Homo sapiens: one gene and its partner. The protein of the gene in region 1 interacts with the protein of each later gene in a pairwise test. Each region holds a gene or a part of one and is shown on either strand. Other genes may lie near its edges.

Region 1 (3,820 bases):
GATTCTCCTGCCTCAGCCTCCCGAAGTAGCTGGGATTACAGGCGCCTACCACCATGCCCAGCTAATTTTTTTGTATTTTTAGTAGAGATGGGGTTTCGCCACGTAGGCCAGGCTGGTCTTGAACTGCTGACCTCAGGTGATCCACCCGCCTCAGCCTCCCAAAGTGCTGGGATTACAGGCGTGAGCCACCGTGCCCGGCCGAACCTTACATTTTTTAATTCACTGACTTGTTTATTTGGAGACATTTCCTATGTCTTGTCTGTGCCCAGCATCCATGAATCTGTTGCTAGGAGTGGAAACAAGTAAAGTGTGGTCCCTACCCTTGAGGAGGCCAGAGTCTGGAGGGGGAGGCAGATCCCAACAGTTACAATACAGTGTGACAGGGGAAGCCATGGGAGCTGGGGAGGGGGAAGGGGGCAAAGGAGAGAGGCAGGGAAGACTTCCCAGAAGAGGCAACCTCTAAGGCCAGGCCTGAAAGCTGAGGCATCAGGGAAGGCATGAGACACCAGAGCTCTCAGGGAACCCTGAGCCATTCAGCATTGTTGGCAGGCATGTCTGGGAGGATGAGAGGAGGAAAGCGAGAGCCTTGAGGCTGCCAGGTGGAAGAGTCTGTATTTTATGCTGCGGCAGTGTGGGGTCCTGGAGGGCCTGCTGCAGAAACATCACTGTAGCAGTCTTCAGAGACTGCTGGGTTGGAGGACACCCAGTAGGAAGCAGGGATCCCTGGAGGTCAGTGGGTGTGGCAGTCCCTCGGAGGGAGAGGGTCAGAGCATTAGGGCTGGAGTCAGGAGCCCTCCAGTTCAGCAGATCCCGGTCTTGGTGTGCTCGGAATCACCTGGGCAGCTTGTAAATATACAGAGATTCCTAAGCCTCGCTCTCAGAGAGTCTGTTGGGGTGGGATATAGGGATCTGCGAGTGTAATACTCAGCCTGTGTGATTCTAACGGGCAGCCGGGGTGGGGACAGCTCCTTTAGGATGGTACCTCTGGCTCAGCCTCCTGATTGAGCTCAGTACACCTAGTATGTACTGAGCTCTCTGTGCCGGGCACCACAGGAGAATGTGTATGGTGTGGAGGTACAGACAGCCCTGGACAGATACATTTGTAAATAAATGGTAGTGCCTAACGTAAAATCCTGCAGAATCTGTAGTGAGTGAGCATGCCCCAGGAACACCATCGCCGCTGAGACTGTCACATCCATAGGAAGAGCTGCCGTTTGCTGAGCTCCTTCTGTTCAAGGCAGCTACTTCTCACATGGCATCTGGTTCACACCTCCCAGCCACTTTGTGGACATAGAGATGGCCTTCTCATTGTAAAGAGATAAACAGATTCCGAGAGGTGACATGACTTGTCCAGGGATGCAGCGAGTCTGTCGGACTCTGAAGTCTGCGCGGCTCAGTAATCACTTCCTTTTGTGCAGCACTTCATTGTGTACACAGCCCTCTCTCCGACCTCATCCTTCATAGTCTCCCTGGGAGGGTGATTGCGATGACCTCCATTTCACACTTGCAGAAACGGAGGCTCAGACAGAGCAGTGCTCATCCAGAATCACAATGTGAGCATGGGCAGAACTGGCCGGGATCCTAGAGCCACCTGCCTCAGAGCTGTCCCTTCCTGTGGGAGGGGATTCATCCTATTAGACCTGGCTCTGGGACTGCAGAAGTGAGCTGACATGATCCCTGCCCTCAGGGAGCTTGTGGCTTAGCACAGGGTGTGGGCAGTTACATTGCAGGGGAATGGGCAGCTGGAGTAGGCGAGAAACTTGACCTTAGAGGACCCAGAAGAGGAGGCAGTGAGCTCTAGGGGAGAGACAGGGGACAAGAAGAAGGGTGTTCCACATCAAGAGAACCGCATGTGCAAAGGCCCAGAGGCATGGAGGAGCTTGGGCCGGAGGGGACCCTGGGGGACGTTCAGTGTGGCTGAGGTCCAGGGAAGTGGGGAGAGCCGACAGGGGCCACAGAACAAAGGATCATGGAAAGAGGGTCTTGGACATTATGTGGAGGGCAGGGATGGGCCCTGGAGGTACAGAGGGCTGGGCTCAGTGCTTGGAGAGGAGCCTTTGCCTCCTGGTTGCTCAGCTAAGCTTGTGGTTCTGTCTCATTCAGCCTGGGGGATGAGCCATGCTGGGGGCTGTCAGATTTGGCTATAGACAGTTTCTGGCTTCTGGATTTGGCTGCTGAGCCAGAGTTTTCCCTTGCTGGGCTGTGTCCCCAACTTTGCACCCAGAAAGTCTGCATTAAAGTGTCTCTCCCTCCTTCATGACCTTCTGTCCTCTCACTGTCAGGCCTTTCCGCCAGCTCCTAGGGACTTTTCTTGTCCATAACTCTCAAATTCCTGGGGCTTGGTGGGCGGCAGGGTGTGGTATGTGTGTGGCCAGCACAGGATTGTCTGGGCTTTCTTCCAAGTCCTTCCAGGCCTGAGCCTGCCTAGCTGTGAGGAGACTCAGTGTCCCCATGGGGCTGGCCCCTGAACCCACTCATCTAGACCAGCACTGGCCTGGCCAGGAGAACAGTGCTCTGAGCACTCAGGGGAGCATCCCCTGCCTCCACCGCATCGTCATTTGGCCACACACACCTGTGAGGTTCCAGAGCCACATTTCTTCCTGGTTGTGTCCCCTGATCCCACAAATCCAACACTTGGAAAGTTCTTAGAAATCAGGGCTAAGCTGTCATTGATCAGTGGAGGAGACTGAGACCCATGGAGGGGAAGGGTCCTACCAGGGTCGCCACTCTTGAGAGAGCTTTTCCTAATAAGGGCTAAAAGCCAGGCATTCTGGAGGCCAAAGTGGAGCAGTGGCCAGGGTGGGGAAGGAATGCCCACCCTGGCCACTCTGGAGTTAGGCCAGCTCGGAATCCCAGCTCTGCCACCTCCCCTGTGAGATCTGGGAATGCAATTAGTTTCTCTGAGCTGCGGTTTCTACATCTGCAAACTGGGGATAATAATAGTTCCCACTCCGTAGGGTTGCTGCAGAGAATAAATGCATAATGTGTGTAAGGAGCCCAGCACAGAGCCTGGTGCACAGAAAATGCCCCCAGGTGTTGGTTATGATCATGATCACTATTATGGTGATCATCATCATTGCTTTCCTCCATCACCTCCTTGTGATAACCAGTTCTGGGCAAGTAACATTCCTGATCAGAAAAGGGAACAGCCATGTAGTCATGCCCACCAGATGCCCCTCACACTTTACTGTGAAATGACACATTGCCATTGACCAGCCAGCCAGTGATCCTTGACCTGAACTTCAGGGAACTGGCTGTGTCAGCAGCAGTGAGATGTCAACCAAGTGCTAGAGGTGGGAGTGGGAGGGGGAAAGGGACAGACAGTCCTGATCTCCCACTGTGTATCGGGCACCCAGTGTGTCTGAGCCACGCACTTCTAGGCTTCGTGCATGTGAAGATTAAGCGCATGTGAAGTGCTTAGCCCGTGGCCCTGTGGGTAATAAGCAGTCAGCCACTATGGTCACGGTGACCTTGGAAAGGTAGAGGCAATGTGCTTTGGTAGGGAGAGCTTGCTGTGAGCCAGGCCTGGCCTCCAGTGCCAGGTCCTCCTCCTCGCTGTGTGCCCACGAGCTCACTCGCTTCCACCTCTTTGAGCCTGAGTGCCCTCCTTGTAAAACAGAACGTTGGAACTCCCTCACGGGGCTATGGTGCGGCTTCCGTGAAATCAGGCACAGAAGGTGCAGGGTGAAATGCCCAGAAGGCTTTTGCTGCTGCTGTTGTATCTCATTGAATCTCTCTGATTCTCAGAGAGAGATTTTGTCATCCTTGTTTTAAAGATGAGGAAACAGGCTCAGAGAGGTGCAGTGAGTTGCCCAAGGTC
Region 2 (3,820 bases), on another chromosome or scaffold:
CCCAGGTTGGTGATTTGCCAAAACCTTTTATTTCACCTTCAGGTAGCAAAAGATTTGAATGAAAAAGAAACAAACACATCCAAGAAGAAAAAAATACAGATGACAGTAACTTGAAATGAGGAAAAGTTTTCAGTATCCAAGGATAATGGAAATAAAAGCAAATCAAAGTCAAAGAGGGCCAAAAGGAAATGCTCAGAATCCCGGCACCCCATCGCTGTGTTATTATCCATCTCCTATTTCCCATAACAACACTGCCTTCCTCAAGCAGCAGTGGAGCACCAGCAGAATGAAGGAGATGTCTCCTGCCATTCTCCTGAAAGCTCTAGGGTCTCTTTCAAACTGTTCAAAGGAACTCTACTCAAAATCCAACAACCTCTCCTCGCAAATCTCTCCATTCTTAGGTCCCCTTTAATAGGCTTTTCTCAAAACTACACATTTTGTGCTTCCCCTATTCACCTTTTTTTTTTTTTTTTTTTTAAGACAGAGTCTTGCTCTGTCACCTAGGCTGGAATGCAGTGGTGCAATCTCGGCTCACTGCAACCTCCATCTCCCAGGTTCAAGCGATTCTAGTGCCTCAGCCTCCCAAGTATCTAGGATTACAGTCATGTGCAATCATGCCTGGCTAATTTTTGTATTTTTAGTAGAGACGAGGTTTTGCCATGTTGCCCAGGCTGATCTCGAAGTCCTGAGCTCAGGCAATCCATCCGCCTTGGCCTCACAAAGTGCTAGGATTATAGGTGTGAGCCACTGCGTCCAGCCCCCTATTCACCTCTTAATACACAAACATTTATTCATCAGGAGCATAAAGAACTGTCTTTATTCATCCAACCTCCTAAATCTAGCTATATAACCATGTATCTGAACAATTCATTGATATGTACACAGCAGAAAGTTTTATCTTCAGAGAATTCGGATGTTTGCTTATATACCCTAAAACGGAAAAAATGTGACAAAATGGCATTCCATCCTATTTCCATTGTATTAATCTTTTATCATATGAATGAAAAAAACTAAGTAATTTTGTTAAAGGTTATCATTCATTTATTAGAAACATATTATTTGAAGGAGGCCAAGCAGGTTTAATGTTGTTGAGGATACATACCAGCAGACATTCACTGGGAACAGGAAATCATCCAATAAAAAGGGAAAGCCAAATAAAAATGTCATTAAATCCAGAAGATAATTATAATACTCATCTTTTATTTCTTTTGGAGAAACTGAAGCATGACTCTGCTCATGGCTGCAAAGAACCTTGGGTTCTCTCCAGGACACTGACCTCAGCAACTGAGCAAAGTTTAATATGGGAGAGAGCCAGACTGAACTTTGCTTGAGTGGTGGCAGATATGAGCATAGTTGTCAAGAAAGACATGTTAGCAAATAGCTGATGCCAATAACTGATTGCCATTCACATGTTTTCCACATTCCATGTCCCACATATACTTACAGAGAGAAAAGGATCAATTTTCTGATAAATAAAATAAACATGTAGGGCATACAGTCCAAGGTAGATATGTGAATGTTATGGTTCTTCAACTATCTAAAGATTATAATCAATCTTGAAATTACAGCTCCTATATTTAAGTAGTGAGGGAAGTAGGAAATCAAAGTCCCTCACATGGGTCTTTGAAAAATATCTCAGCCCTCAAAGCCTTATAATGCCCAATGGGTTCTCTCACTCATCTGTCTCTAACAGGACACAGTGGTGGCTCTCCATGCTCTGTCCAAATATGGAGCAGCCACATTTACCAGGACTGGGAAGGCTGCACAGGTGACTATCCAGTCTTCAGGGACATTTTCCAGCAAATTCCAAGTGGACAACAACAACCGCCTGTTACTGCAGCAGGTCTCATTGCCAGAGCTGCCTGGGGAATACAGCATGAAAGTGACAGGAGAAGGATGTGTCTACCTCCAGGTGAGACTCTTGGGCAGGTGAGGACAGGACAGATGAGGACAGCAGCTGTTCTCTCTGAGAAGTCCTAACTCAGAAAACAATGGGACAGATCAGAGAAAGGGTTAGGGACGTGGACAGGAATTCTGGGAAAGGGCAAAAAACTGATTTTGTCTTTGATGTTCTATAGACATCCTTGAAATACAATATTCTCCCAGAAAAGGAAGAGTTCCCCTTTGCTTTAGGAGTGCAGACTCTGCCTCAAACTTGTGATGAACCCAAAGCCCACACCAGCTTCCAAATCTCCCTAAGTGTCAGGTAAGACCTTCTGACTCTATCACCTAATCCTAAGAATAACCACCAGTCTTCTTTCGGGAACTCCTCTTTAAGTAAAGCAGTGCAACAGTAGATATTTGCACTATTCACAAAAAATGCAATGTATTCTCTTAAGTTGATATAATTTCTCAATGATGGGGTTTACATTGTCCATCCAGGATCTACTATTGTGCAACCTCATTGTTTAAAGGGTAATAATTTCCCTCAATAACAACTAAGTAAATATTACCCATTGCCTCTGACCTGAATTCCTTGTTATGTAATGAAATCCTATATTATTCTTGCTTTATTGAAGATAGAGATGAAGAATTATTGAAAAGTTTGAATAGAAGGAAGTAGTGACTCCTTAGTTAGAATTCCTACTGGCAATAATAAATCTCAGGTTATATATGATATAATTAATTTGGGGGGAAGATACACTTATATGCATCAATATTTAAATAGCTGCAGATCTGATAAAAAACTCTCTCTCCACAAACATATTATTACTTGGTTGGAGATACTATTCAGGAAAAAAGTTAGGACAAAATACATGTAACAAATAACTGGCACACATCAAAAAGAATGAGATCATGACCTTTGCAGGAACATGGATGGAGATGGAGGTCATTATCCTTGGCAAACTAGCACAGGAATGGAAAACCAAACACTGCATGTTCTCATTTGTAAGTGGGAGCTAAATGATGAGAACATATGGACACAAAAAGGAGAACAACAGACACCAGAGCCTACTTGAGGGTTAAGGATGGGAGGAGGGAGAAGATCAGAAAAAAACAACAATTCAGTGCAAAATTTAGTACCCAAGTGATAAAGTAATCTGTACACCAAACCCCCATGACACGAGTTTACCTATATAACAAACCTGCATGTGTACGCCTGAACCTAAAAGTTAAGTATATATATATATATTTTTTTCATTTAATTTGGTGTATATATATGCCAAAAAATAAATTAAGCAGTCCAAATTTCGGATGCAAACTCTCGGGGACAAGACGCTAGGTGTTTCTAAGTGTTTTGTTGAAAGCCAGTGTTTAAGTAAACATTATAAATTATTGTTGTTTTTGTAAATAATGTAGACTGAAATTTATTATTCATAATATACATCATTTTGTCAGCTGAAAGAAAATAAAAGTAAACAAATAAATAAAATAACTGGCATAGATTAGAGGTCACAAACAGCCTGTGCATCACTTGTAGAGCTTTCTTAAAATGCAGATCCTCAGCCGGGCGTGGTGGCTCACGCCTGTAATCTCAGCACTTTGGGAGGCCAAGGCGGGCAGATTACCTTAGGTCGGGAGTTCAAGACCAGCCTGACCAACATGGAGAAACCCCGTCTGTACTAAAAATACAAAATTAGTCGGACGTGGTGGTGCATGCCTGTAATCCCAGCTACTCGGGAGGCTGAGGCAGGAGAATCACTTGAACCCAGGAGGCGGAGGTTGCGGTGAGCCGAAATCATGCCATTGCACTCCAGCCTGGGCAAGAAGAGTGAAAAACTCCATCAAAAAAAAAAAATGCAGATCCTCAGCCCCCATACACTAGACATTCTGATTCATCAGGTCTAGAGTAGGGCCTGGTCTCTGTGGCTTTAACAGG

The links.
Region 2: the proteins of LHX6 (region 1) and A2M interact in binary tests that used the Homo sapiens proteins (3 or more experiments, as listed by UniProt).

Annotation. Positions count from the first base shown.
Region 1 is NC_000009.12:122,204,930-122,208,749, reverse strand, and holds part of LHX6 (LIM/homeobox protein Lhx6), read left to right. Parts: intron 1-3,820. UniProt on the Homo sapiens protein: Probable transcription factor required for the expression of a subset of genes involved in interneurons migration and development.
Region 2 is NC_000012.12:9,070,745-9,074,564, reverse strand, and holds part of A2M (alpha-2-macroglobulin isoform a precursor), read left to right. Parts: coding exon 1-5; intron 6-1,693; coding exon 1,694-1,912; intron 1,913-2,078; coding exon 2,079-2,206; intron 2,207-3,820. UniProt on the Homo sapiens protein: Is able to inhibit all four classes of proteinases by a unique 'trapping' mechanism. This protein has a peptide stretch, called the 'bait region' which contains specific cleavage sites for different proteinases.